Linked DNA regions of Homo sapiens: region 2 is linked to region 1. The links come from fine-mapping of genetic effects on gene expression. Tissue or cell type: whole blood. Region 1 holds a variant in brackets; the other region holds the start of a gene. All regions are shown on one strand. Distances are between the middles of the regions.

Region 1 (7,770 bases):
GAACTGTCTCATATATAAGAACAGAACACTTTTTGCCAGCTATACCAAATGTTTTTGGGATTAAAAAAATAGTTTCTCTTTTCCAAATTAGGTGGTAAGAAAAGGAAGGGCATTTTCATTCTCACATTCTTTGAATGTTGAAACGTTTTAAAAACTTCCAGCTGGGCTTGGTGGCTCATACCTGTAACCCCAGCACTATGGGAGGCTGAGATGGGAGGATCCCTTGAGGCCAGGAGTTCAGGACCAGCCTGGGCAACATAGTAAAACTGCCCAAAATTTGAAAATTAGCCTTGTGTGGTGGTGTGCACTGTAGTCCCAGCTGCTCGGGAGGCTGGGGCAGGAGGATTGCTTGAGCCCAGGAGTTTGAGGCTGCAGTGAGCTATGGTTGTACCACTGTACTCCAACCTGGGCAACAGCGTGATACCCTGTCTAAAAAAATAATAAAAATAAAAAAGGATTAAACCCTTTACTTGACCAGCTTCTTTTCCTGCTACCCCTGGACTAACTAATCATTACATATTTTTGTAGTTGTTTTTTCTTTCTTTCTCTCTCCTGATCTACCACAAGCCAAATGTACTCATATACATACTAATAGGTGAAAAAAGAGAGTCTGAGGAGTGAATACATTTATTTTGTGATTTCCTAGGCAGTAGCTAGGACTCCCTTAGAGGTTGCTAATAGGGAAAGGGTGCGCTGGCTCTACTCAGTTTTATAACTGCTTTTCCCCGAATTCTGCAGACATCTTCATTCCCCTGGAGGTCAGATAATGGCTATTTATTTTCCATAGCCATGAAAATCTCTGGGGAGAGCTGTGGCAATTTGACGAGAGCTATTAAAGGGACATTAGGATTGAAGTAGCTGCTCAGGCAGTCACATACCCTCGATCCTCATCTGCAGGGACAGCTGCCAGAACGAATGAGCCCAGCTCTCCTGCCCGCAGCCAGCCGCGTGTGGGTGCAACTGGCGACCAGCCACTGGAGTGAGTCCCAGGGAAGGGGACAGGTTCTTAGAATCACCATTTGTCTCTGCTCTCTCCCTCTCTGCAATAGGACGGGCACTCTAAACTCACATAATGGTTAATAACAACAGCTAACAATTACTGAGCACCTACTATGTGTCAGGCATGTGCTGAGGATGATCGCATCAAGTAAAATGCCTGTCTCTGGCCCAGAGGCCCAGAAGAAGAGAAAGAAGGGAAATCTGTAGGAGGCAAACAGTCCCTTACCCCTCTGCTTGCAGACCTTCAGTGACAGGACACTCCCTGTTTGCTCCAAGCACCTCTTGCATTTTCAGAGCTTGGGACACAGATTCAGGGACTTGCACTTCGATAGAGTGCCTCAGGACCCCTCGTCGGAGCCATGGAAAGTCAGTTTCTGGGCCCATCCTTCCTGTGGGGGTGTCTTTCCTTCTCTTGGCCACCCCCTAGGAATCCCTAGTAGAGAGCAGGCACTTAATAGCCAGTGCAGTGAGAGTGGTCTGTGATGTCTGGGCCAGGGCAAGGCCCGCCAAGTGGGCTCCCAGGTGCCTGCCACAGAGCCTCTGGGGTTTGAGGCCCTCAGTGACCCTTAGGCAATAGCTGGGTCTTAATGAGGGATCATGTCCTTTCCTGGGTAGTCGTGGGTAGAGGGGTGTGAACTGATCTGAGCTACTCTAGGAAGGCTAGAGACAAAAGCAGGAACCAAGAGAAGGGCTGAGGCTCCTTCCAAGAGACTCCAAGTCCTGAGGGCAAGAAGCGGAGAGCCTTGTGCCAGGCCAGGTGTTGCCCCTGTCAGTGCTGACGGACAGGCAAGAGAGGCTGCTGATGCTGCAGCCCTGTGAAGCTGAGACTCACCCTTTGCCCACTTTCACAGCCATCTCCCCAGGAGGCTGTGGTGACACAGGTAAAAGCCAAAGGACAGAGGATGACCCTGGACAAATCACTCAGACCCTCCAGTCCTCTTTGCTCATTTATAAAATACAGGCAAAAAGCCCCCTAGTACTAAATGAAATAGCCACTGTAAAAGAGCACGGGAGATAGGGTCTGTGATGTCTTTTGTCCCCAGTGTCCTGAGTGAATTCACAGGAAAGGGGAGAAAGACTGGTTGCCCACTTCCAGGGTGATTGGCTAATTTCCACTTCTTTCCTGCTAGGGATGGGAACACACGCCAGAATCCTGGGAAGGCTACATGTCCTCAGGTGGTGCTGGCCCCACCTCCAGCCTCTGCAGGGATACCAGGATATGAGCCAGGCTCTGCTCCCGGGGTGACCCATCCTCCTCAGTGCCCCTTCTTTCCTCACAACTGCAGGCAGAAGGAGAGTGTGTCCTGTCTCTCTGAGGAGCTGGCTGTGCCATTTAAGCAGGCCCTAGGGGTGGAGCGCTGTGAAGAGATGGCACCCAGGTCCCTGTTCCTCCTTTTCCAGAGCAAACACTGCTAAGGGATCATGACAGTCCCTGCATCTGGCCCAGACTGGGCCTTGGGAGGCTTTTGACATCAATCCATGCAACCGCACCCAACAATTGGAGTCAGCATGGGAGGTGAGACCCACTTGCCAATTTTGCTCTCAGGGAACAGCCCTCTTTACTAAAACATAGCACAGTATTGATAACAGTTGTTTCCAGGCATCGTAGAAAGCGTTTAGTGGGCATTAACGTCTTTGATCCTCACCACAAGGTCAGGGGTTGGATGATGTTAGCATGCTCATTGAAGGATCAGAAAAGTCAGGCTCAAGATAGCTCGCCCTTCATTCAGCCAGCCGGTGTTAACTGAATATTAACTGTGCACCCGTCTGTGCCAGTGTTCCCCCAGGAGCTGCAGAGGGTCCTGAGCAGAGTGAGCTCAAGCCACTTGGGAGCTCACATTCCAGCTATCAGTGCTGATTCATCTCAAATGTTTGATCCACGCTGGGTTCTAACCCTTCCCTGCTCAGAGCCCTCAGAGTCCAGGTCAGGTAGAACCCAGAACAGAGCCTCTGGCAGGAAGGAGCTTGCATGGTCCTCAGGCTTCATGTCCAGAGATCATTCCTCCACTTTGAGCTTCTTTGTGAAAACCAATCACAAAGAGAGGAGGGGTGAAATGTGCCAAAGCCTCTGCCAGGGTTGTAGCAAGGAAACCTGGGCTTCTAGGGAAAGTTGAGAAAGGGCCTATATTAGTCAGGAGGGCTACTGTAAGAGAGTACCACAGGCTGGGTGGCTTAAACAACAGAAATTTATCACCTTACGGTTCTGGAGGCTAGAAGTCTAAAATCAAAGTGTTGGCAAGGTTGGTTCCTTCATGAGGAATTTCTTGGCGTTGCCTGGCATATAGATGCATCACTGCAGTCTCTGCCTCGTTGTCACATGGCCATCTTCTCCCTGTGTCTATAGGTCTATGTCCAAATTTCCCTCTTCTTATAAAGACACCAGTCATATTGGCTTAGGCCCAGCCCAATGATTTCATCTTAATTTGATTACATCTCTGCTATGGTTTGAATGTGTCCCTTCCAAAATTCAGGTTATTGCCAATGTGATAGTATTGAGATGGGGTCCTTAAAGAAGTAATTAGGCCATGAGGGTGCCTCTCTCTGAAGGGAGGCTCATTGGATTGTATCAGTGTAACATAATTTACATAACCAGTTCTTTATGTGATGGAAATCCCATTCAACGGTTTCCAACCTTTGCTATTACAAACTGCTGTGAAGAGAAACATATGTCATTATACTAATCAGGTGCTGTTGTTGTTTTTATAATGCATTATCCTGGAGAGACTGCCCCTCCCAGGGCTAGCTACTTTGGGGAGAGAGTAAACAACTTGGTCGAGCGTGCCTTT[C/T]GTATGCAAACCAGTCAATCCAGAGCCCACACCCCCAGTCACCTCCTTTATCAAACTCTGACACAGCAAGCCAATATTCCCCCTGCCCTAAATCACTCCAGGGCCAGGCATGGGACAACTAGGGACAATCCCTATAGCCAGGGCCTGCCAAAGTTATACAGATTAGCCAATCCTAAGCCTGCTTCCCTGCCTTGCCTTGCCTTTCTGCTGGAAACTACATTAAAGGCGCTGGATCGTGCTTTTCCCTCACCCCCTCTGCTTCTTGGCTGACCCAAGTTCTTCCTGTGTGGCCCTGCAAGGCGTGACACACCTCTCCTCCTGGGAACTGCATAACAAACTCTTCTTGCAGAGATAGTTTTCTCTGTGTCTGTCATCTTACCATACCTGATGAAAACAAATATGGGTACATTTTTTTTTTTTTTTGAGAGAGAGGGTCTCACTCTGTCTCCCAGGCTGGAGTGCAGTGGTGTAATCACAGGTCACTGCAGCCTCGACCTCCTGGGCTCTAGTGATCCTCCCACGTCAGCCTTGCAAATAGCTGAGACTACAGGCACACACCACCATGCCTAGCTAATTTTTGGTGTATTTGTTATAGAGACAGAGTTTCGCTATGTTGCCCAGGCTGGTCTCAAACTCCTGAGCTCAAGTGATCCACCCACCTTAGCCTCTCAAAGTGCTGGGATTATAAGTGTGAGCCACAGCATCCAGCCATGGGTACATTTTAAAGCAGGCGTTTTGTTCATGTGCAGCCCTTGTTCTCAGTTAAGGGGAAAATGAGTGATCCTTTGCTTGGCTCTGAAGGAGCAGTGTTTTATATGTAAAGAATATATTCTGTATATTTAAAGAAGAGCAATGGGGGGCATTTGAAAATAAATCCGTTCATTTTTTTCTGATTGTAAAAATAATATATGCTCAGTAAAGAGAATCTGAAAAATACAGAAGTATTGGGGGAACCCACCCCCAATATTTCAACATAGGTTCTTTCTATTTTCCATAAGTGTCGGCCGACTGAGAAATAAAGAGAAATAGTACAAAGAGAGGAATTTTAACAGCTGGGCTGCCGGGGGTGACGTCGCATATCAGTAGGACTGTGATGCCCACCTGAGCCTCAAACCAGCAAGTTTTTTATTAAGGGTTTCAAAAGGGGAGGGGGTGTAAAACAGGGAGTAGGTACAAAGATCACATGCTTCAAAGGGCAAAAGCAGAACAAAGATCACATGCTTCTGAGGAAACAAGACAAAAGGCAAAACAGAACTACTGATAAGGGTCTATGTTCAACTGTGCGCGTATTGTCTTTTTTTTTTATTATTTAAGTTTTAGGGTACATGTGCACACTGTGCAGGTTAGTTACATATGTATACATGTGACATGCTGGTCGCTGCACCCACTAACTCGTCATCTAGCATTAGGTATATCTCCCAATGCTATCCCTCCCCCCTCCCCCCACCCCTCAATAGTCCCCAGAGTGTGATGTTCCCCTTCCTGTGTCCATGTGTTCTCATTGTTCAATTCCCACCTATGAGTGAGAATATGCGGTGTTTGGTTTTTTGTTCTTGCGATAGTTTACTGAGAATGATGATTTTCAATTTCATCCGTGTCCCTACAAAGGACATGAACTCATCATTTTTTATGGCTGCATATGTGTATATGTGCCACATTTTCTTAATCCAGTCTATCATTGTTGGACATTTGGGTTGGTTCCAAGTCTTTGCTATTGTGAATAGTGCCGCAATAAACATACGTGTGTGTGTGTCTTTATAGCAGCATGATTTATAGTCCTTTGGGTATATACCCAGTAATGGGATGGCTGGGTCAAATGGTATTTCTAGTTCTAGATCCCTGAGGAATCGCCACACTGACTTCCACAATGGTTGAACTAGTTTACAGTCCCACCAACAGTGTAAAAGTGTTCCTATTTCTCCACATCCTCTCCAGCACCTGTTGTTTCCTGACTTTTTAATGATTGCCATTCTAACTGGTGTGAGATGGTATCTCATTGTGGTTTTGATTTGCATTTCTCTGATGGCCAGTGATGGTGAGCATTTTTTCATGTGTTTTTTGGCTGCCTAAATGTCTTCTTTTGAGAAGTGTCTGTTCATGTCCTTCGCCCACTTTTTGATGGGGTTGTTTGTTTTTTCTTGTAAATTTGTTTGAGTTCATTGTGGATTCTGGATATTAGCCCTTTGTCAGATGAGTAGGTTGCGAAAATTTTCTCCCATTTTGTGGGTTGCCTGTTCACTCTGATGGTAGTTTCTTTTGCTGTGCAGAAGCTTTTTAGTTTAATTAGATCCCATTTGTCAATTTTGTCTTTTGTTGCCATTGCTTTTGGTGTTTTAGACATGAAGTCCTTGCCCGTGCCTATGTCCTGAATGGTAATGCCTAGGTTTTCTTCTAGGGTTTTTATGGTTTTAGGTCTAACGTTTAAGTGTTTAATCCATCTTGAATTGATTTTTGTATAAGGTGTAAGGAAGGGATCCAGTTTCAGCTTTCTACATATGGCTAGCCAGTTTTCCCAGCACCATTTATTAAATAGGGAATCCTTTCCCCATTGCTTGTTTTTCTCAGGTTTGTCAAAGATCAGATAGTTGTAGATATGCGGCGTTATTTCTGAGGGCTCTGTTCTGTTCCATTGATCTGTATCTCTGTTTTGGTACCAGTACCATGCTGTCTTGGTTACTGTAGCCTTGTAGTATAGTTTGAAGTCAGGTAGTGTGATGCCTCCAGCTTTGTTCTTTTGGCTTAGGATTGACTTGGCAATGCGGGCTCTTTTTTGGTTCCATATGAACTTTAAAGTAGTTTTTTCCAATTCTGTGAAGAAAGTCATTGGTAGCTTGATGGGGATGACATTGAATCTATAAATTACCTTGGGCAGGATGGCCATTTTCACAATATTGATTCTTCCTACCCATGAGCATGGAATGTTCTTCCATTTGTTTGTATCCTCTTTTATTTCATTGAGCAGTGGTTTGTAGTTCTCCTTGAAGAGGTCCTTCACGTCCCTTGTAAGGTGGATTCCTAGGTATTTTATTCTCTTTGAAGCAATTGTGAATGGGAGTTCACTCATGATTTGGCTCTCTGTTTGTCTGTTATTGATGTATAAGAATGCTTGTGATTTTTGTACATTGATTTTGTATCCTGAGACTTTGCTGAAGTTGCTTATCAGCTTAAGGAGATTTTCGGCTGAGACAATGGGGTTTTCTAGATATACAATCATGTCGTCTGCAAACAGGGACAATTTGACTTCCTCTTTTCCTAATTGAATACCCTTTATTTCCTTCTCTTGCCTAATTGCCCTGGCCAGAACTTCCAACACTATGCTGAATAGGAGTGGTGAGAGAGGGCATCCCTGTCTTGTGCCAGTTTTCAAAGGGAATGCTTCCAGTTTTTGCCCGTTCAGTAGGATATTGGCTGTGGGTTTGTCATAAATAGCTCTTATTATTTTGAGATACGTCCCATCAATACCTAATTTATTGAGAGTTTTTAGCATGAAGGGTTGTTGAATTTTGTCAAAGGCCTTTTCTGCATCTATTGAGATAATCATGTGGTTTTTGTCTGTGGTTCTGTTTATATGCTGGATTACATTTATTGATTTGCTTATATTGAACCAGCCTTGCATCCCAGGGATGAAGTCCACTTGATCATGGTGGATAAGCTTTTTGATGTGCTGCTGGATTTGGTTTGCCAGTATTTTATTGAGGATTTTTGCATCAGTGTTCATCAAGACTATTGGTCTAAAATTCTCTTTTTTGTTTGTGTCTCTGCCAGGCTTTGGTATCAGGATGATGCTGGCCTCATAAAATGAGTTAGGGAGGATTCCCTCTTTTTCTATTGATTGGAATAGTTTCAGAAGGAATGGTACCAGTTCCTCCTTGTACCTCTGGTAGAATTCGGCTGTGAATCCATCTGGTCCTGGACTCTTTTTGGTTGGTAAGCTATTGATTATTGCCACAATTTCAGCTCCTGTTATTGGTCTATTCAGAGATTC
Region 2 (6,274 bases), 45 kb before region 1:
CCCGCCTTGGCCTCCCAAAGTGCTGGGATTACAGGCATGAGCCACCACACCGGGCCTACAAGGCATTTTTTTTTTTTTCTGTCTGACTTTCTGGAGGGCCAAAGAATGATAACATCTGCTTATTGTGAGAGGGTTCTGAGAAAGTTAGCCAAACCTTTAGCAGAAAAATACCTAGGGGAAACCTTCAACAGAGAGGGCCCTTCTCCATCACAGTGCTCTTGCTCACTCCTCTCTCAAACAAGGGCAATTTTTCAAGAGTGTTAATGGGAAACCATTAGGCATCCACCTTAAGGTCCTATTTTGGCTCCTTCTGACTTAGTTTTGTTTCCTAATCTTAAAAAATCTTTAAGGGGCTCACATTTTTCTTCAATTATATATATATATATATATATATATATATATATATATATATATATATATAGAGAGAGAGAGAGAGAGAGAGAGAGAGAGAGAGAGAGAGAGAGAGAGAGAGAGACTGCATTGACATGCTTAAATTCCAAAGACCTTAAGTTCTTTAGAGATGGACTAAGTGGCTGGTATCATTGCTTACAAATGTGTTTTGAACTTGATGGAGCTAATGTTGAAAAATAAAGTTTAGGCTGGGTATGGTGGCTCATGCCTGTTATCCCAGCACTTTGGGAGGCCGATGACGGCTGATCACTTGAGGTCAGGAGTTCAAGACCAGCCTGGCCAAGTTGGTGAAACTCTGTCTTTACTGAAAATACAAAAATTAGCCAGGCATGGTGGTGGGTGCCTGTAATCTCATCTACTCAGGAGGCTGAGGCAGGAGAATTGCTTGAACCTAGGAGGTGTAGGTTGCAGTGAACCGAGATCGCACCACTGCATTCCAGCCTGGGTGACAGAGCGAGACTCTGCTCAGAAAAAAAGAAAAATAAACTTGTATTTTATTTTCAGAAGTCTCGAACTCCTGAGTTCCAGTGATCTACCCATCTTGATCTCCCAAAGTGAGTTATATATTTTTTTGAGATGGAGTCTTCCTTTGTTGCCCAGGCTGGAGTGCAGTGGTGCAATCTCGGCTCACTGCAACCTCTGCCTCCTGAGTTCAAGCGATTCTCCTGCCTCAGCCTCCCGAGTAGCTGGGATTACAGGCATGTGCCACCATGCCCGGCTACTTTTTGTATTTTTAGTAGAGACGGGGTTTCACCATGTTGGCCAGGCTGGTCTCGAACCCTTGATCTGGTGATCCACCCACCTCGGCCTCCCAAAGTGCTGGGATCACGGCCGCTCCTGGCCGTGAGTTGTATTTTTAAAAAATAATCGTGAAGTTTTATTTTAAGCATAGATTACTTACTTCGAACTAGAGCTCCATAAATGTGATGTTTAGCGTCCCCCTAATCTCCACTCCCATCACTATCAACCAGTCGTCTAGCCATCCAAAATGTATTGAAAGTGAATGGGGCTTGAGGAGATCATGAAACTTAATTTTCACCATAGTGCCTTATAAAAGGTACTAAAACTGTAAAGTTTTTGAGTTTTCTATCTGCCATGTTACTATCATTTAAAAGTAATGATTTGGCTGGGCTCAGTGGCTCACGCCTATAATCCCAACACTTTGGGAGGCCGTAGTGGGAGGATTGGTTTATCCCAGGAGTTCAAGACTAGCCTGGGCAACACAGGGAGAACTGTCTGTACAAAAAAATAAATAAATTGGCCAGGCATGGTGGTACACACTTGTGGTCCTAGCTTCTCAGGAGGCTGAGGTGGCAGTATTGCTTGAGCCCAGGAGATCAAGGCTGCAGTGAGCCATGATGGTGCCACTGCACCCCAAGTTGGGTGACAGAGCAAGAGTCTGCTAAAAAAAAAATTATTTAAAAAATGGCCTTGGGTACTTTTTTTTGAGCTAGTTGTTCTGCAAGGTGTAGCTCTCTTGCACCTATTCAGGTCCTGAGCCCAGTGGCATGGCAAACACTCTCTGTGTTCCAGAACCAGGAGCACCCAGATTTCCTAGCCAATTAAGAGCTCTCAGCTTTGGGTCTGTCTGATGAGCTGACTTGAGACAAAGATCTTCTGTTTCTAGGAGGACATGGGTTCTAGGTCTCTGTGTATAAGTTGGATGTTATGTTTGCTTTGAGTGTGTTTGATGTGGTCCTGCAGTGTGTGTGCTGTGATTTATTTGTAAGAATTTTTGGACTAATAGTCTTCCCAGCCAGGTGTGGTGGTTCACACCTATAATCCTAGCACTTTAGGAGGCTAAGGGGGGCTAATTGAGCTCAGGAGTTTGAGACCAGCCTGGGCAACATGGTGAAACCCTGTCTCTGCAAAAAATACAAAAATTAGCCGGGTGTGGTGGTGCACCTGTAGTTCCAGCTACTCAGGAGGCTGAGGCAGGAGGACTGCTTGAACCTGGGAGGTCGAGGCTGCAGTAAGCCGAGATCGTGCCAGTGCACTCCGGCCTGGTTGATAAAGTGAGGCCCTGTCAAAAAAAAAAATCTGTTTCCACCATTAGACTGTAATCTCTATGAGGGCAGGGACCCTGTCATTTCTTTGCTCACCAGTTTTATCCCTAATGCTTGGCTCATAGTTAGAGCTCAGTATATATTTATTGAAATAATAATTGTGTACTATCTGTGTCTATGTGTATTTTAGTAGCTACAATTTGTTTGTGAGGCTGAGGTGACAGACAGCTGGTGTTCTCCGAAAATGAGAATCGTCCGAATGATGTATATGATATATCTATGTCTACGTGTTAGTGTTCCGGTTGTGTTTTATGCACGTAATCTGGGAATTTGTGGAGGCACTTCAGAAAATATCAAACACCCACAGTATATCAGATCCTGAGTTACGCCCGGGGCAAAAACGACTTCTTCTGCCTGTCCTGCTAACTTTGGGGAGGATCTGGAGGTGAGATTTTTAAACAGGGTAGAAATTATTTATTTTTATTTTGTATATTAAGAAAAAAAATTACTTTTTGGAGGCCTTCCGGCAAAAACCAGAAAGCCTGCTAGGCAAATTCTAAAAAAGCTGTAACACTAGGGTAGAAATTATTGATGCCAAGTTTACACAAAAGTGGCGAGGGCGATGCTAGGGCAGGGGGCGGAGCCCCGCTCCAGAAGCTACGCCCCGGGGCGCCATTATTTTTTCATTCCGGAACCTTTTATCCCCCTCCCGACCATGTTTTCCTCCGGTCTCTTTTGGGCAACGAGCACTTCCGGAATCTCTCGGCGTGTGAGCTTGGTTGTCCTACCAAAGCCAGCGTTTCGGCTCGCGTGCGCCGGCCTAGTTTGCTCGCGTCCTCACGCGCTTTGGGTTTCCCGGTCTCATGGCCGGCCTGACCTTATTTGTGGGCCGCCTCCCGCCCTCGGCCCGCAGTGAGCAGCTGGAGGAACTGTTCAGTCAGGTGGGGCCGGTGAAGCAGTGCTTCGTGGTGACTGAAAAAGGTAGGGGCGGGGCGGTCGAGGATAGGGCTGGGGTTTCCTGCGATCGAGGGCACCTTCCCAAACTTCAGGGAGCCGTATCATTCTTTACCCTCCCCGAAGAGAAGGGACAGGGAACTGAGTTTCTTTTCCAAACTGATTCTGCTTTAGATGCGTTCATAGGAGTCAGTTTATGAAGGGCAAAGCATTCCCTTACGTTTCTATAGCGCTTTCTGTTGATTATGCGCGCTAAAAATGAAAATAGTTAACTAGAGCATCAGTAAGACTTATTGAGAGTCACCTGATTGGCAGGTACAGTGATCAGTTTGATACAGGTTATCTCATTTAATTTTCTCAGCAATCTTACCGGATGGAGAGTCTTAATGTCATTTTACAGACAGGAATCCGGGATTTAGGGGAATTTAGTAACTTTAAGTTTGTACGGCTGTTAAGTAGTGGACCCCCGATTTGATCCTCAGACCTGGACATCTTAGCCAGGATGCTATCCACTTGTTCATTCATTTATTCAGCAAATACTTAATACCTACTGTGTGCCAGGAAGTGTTGTAGGTCCTGGGGATGCAGCAGTGCACAACACCAAACCAAAAAAATCTTTGATTTTATGTCTTCAAGGTGGGGAAGAGAGCCAATAAACGAGCCAATAAACAAGCCAACCGTGAAAATGATGTCAAATGCTAAGGAGAAAAATAAGCCAGGGAAAGGGGTTAGGAAGTCTATGTGCATGTGTATAGTGGGGAGAGGGGGTGAAGAGTGGCAATATAGATAGGGTGGCCAGAGAAGGACGGACTGAGGTGAGAGAGTGAACACATGCCTCTCCGGAGGAAGAACAATTCAGGAAGAGAAAACAGCAAGCTCAAAGGTACTGAAACAGAGGTGTTTTTGGTATATTGGAGGAGTAGTAAGGAGGACAGGGTGACTGGATTGAAGTGAGTAAAGGGAAGAGAATTAGGAGATGAGATCTAGAGTAGCAGATCATGTAAGATTTTTTTTTTTTTTTAAAGACTGCGTCTTGCTCTGTCGCCCAGGCGGGAGTGCAGTGCCACGATCTCCGCTCACTGCAACCTCTGCCTCCTGGTTCAACCCATTCTCCTGCCTCAGCCTCCCAAGTAGCTGGGATTACAGGCGAGTGTCACTACACCTGGCTAATTTTTGTATTTTTAGTAGAGACGGGGTTTCGCTATGTTGGCCAGGGTTGTCTGGAACTCGAGACCTCAGGTGATCCGCCCGCCTCATGTAGGATGTTATAGACCATTGCAAGGACTTTGGCTTTTACTCAGAGATAGGAAGCCACTGATTTTAAGCAGAGAGCAGTAAGTGTGATCTGGCATTCGTTTTGAAAGATTCTCTCTCTGGCTGGTGTGTTGCCAATAGACTGTTGGAGAATAGGACAAAAGCTTATGTACTTAAAATAGGGACCGAAAGTCCTGTACAGTAATGTTTATTAAACTGCAGATTATTACCTATTAGTGGGTCTTGAGTGGGTCATGACTAGAGTTTGTTTTGTTGTGTTTTAGAAACAGGGTCTTGCTCTGTCAACCCTGTTGACAGTTGGAGTGCAGTGGTGCGATCACAGCTCAATGTAACCTTAAACTCCTGGGCTCAAGCAATCCTCCTACTTCAGCCTCCCAAGTAGCTATGACTACAGACGTGCTTCACCATGCCTGGCCAATTTTTGAATATTTTTTGTAGAGACAGGGTCTCACTACGTTGTCCAGGCTGGTTTCAAATGATCCTCCTGCCTTGGCCTCCCAAAGCACTGGGATTACAGGCATGTGCCACCACGCCTGGCCTAGAGTTCTTAAAAAATTAAATAGTATAGGAGTACGTCCATATATGGTAAAGGATAAGTATTTGTAAAACTTTTAAGTTTTAAATAAAGAATATATGTATGTACTGGGTTCCAGTGTAAGTAGCATTCCGTACCCAGGTGGTTGTATTCCAGGGAAGAATAGGCCATTGAATGGGAGTTCTCCTTTGAGTCCTCAGAATATAGGCTACATGCAATCTTACCTTACACCTTGTGTACTTGGTCTAAATCCTTAAAAATCTCTTACTTCCTTTTAAAAAACTATGCACTTTCCTATCCAGACAGCTGATATGTACTGGAAAGAGTGCTGCACTCAGTGAAACGGGAGGGAGGGTATGTGGAATGAAGTCTTCCTCAATAGCAGTGCATGTCACTTCACCTCTTTAAGATGGGAATAATTTCACAGGGTTGTCAGGGACTCTAAATGTATGTGAGCATGCTTTATGCAGACATGTAAAATGTGTGGTATTTACTGTATGTCCTTTCATTTGGGTGTCAAACTCTTTTACATTTCAGCTGCTTTACTTTTGGTTGTACTGATCATGAAGGGCTATGAATTTTCTTGTGCTCATTTTCTGAAAGGTGAGTGGGCAGCTTTTATGATAAGGAGTTCAAGAGAAGAGAAAAATTGATGTTATGTTGCTTTAACCAGTTTATGTAGATCAGTGTCCTGTGTCAAAGGGCTTATACCCTGAAGGAGATTCAAATGCAGTGGAAAGAGAAGCAGAGCATATGAACTATGTGTCCTTTTCAGGTAAAGGCAGACTTCTTGATCTGTCCTTTTCCTTTTTGATGCAATAAATTATTTAAAATTTTACTATACAAAATGTTAAACCAAAAAGGGCAAAGGTGGGTTACAGTTGATATTTGTAGTTTTCATCTCCTTGGTCCTAATATTATTCTTTGTGGAGTCCTATGGAAGAACATGGGGGCTGGTGAGGAGGAGTTAATTCAGCTACTAACACCCTGTGTGACATTAACCAATTCACTTACTGTCTTCCATCTCAAATTACTTACTTGGAAAGAAGGGGTGATAATATTTGCTTTACCTATTTTGAGGTGTTCTAAAGAT

The links. PIP is the estimated chance that this variant, and not a neighbour inherited with it, causes the effect.
Region 2: RBM28 starts here. The variant in region 1 is fine-mapped to the expression of RBM28 in whole blood (TOPMed, PIP above 0.99).

Annotation. Positions count from the first base shown.
Region 1 is chr7:128,295,453-128,303,222 of GRCh38, reverse strand. It overlaps RBM28 (RNA binding motif protein 28), which reads left to right. Exons shown (of 19, transcript NM_018077.3): 19 at 1-5,538. Among named protein-coding and RNA genes, the nearest start is that of RBM28, 45 kb to the left of the region's middle. RefSeq lists an enhancer at 3,713-4,007. The variant C/T (reference allele first, on the strand shown) is at 3,786.
Region 2 is chr7:128,340,800-128,347,073 of GRCh38, reverse strand. It overlaps RBM28 (RNA binding motif protein 28), which reads left to right and starts at 3,166. Exons shown (of 19, transcript NM_018077.3): 1 at 3,166-3,398. The coding sequence starts at 3,281. It also overlaps the pseudogene RNU7-27P. RefSeq lists an enhancer at 3,026-3,225.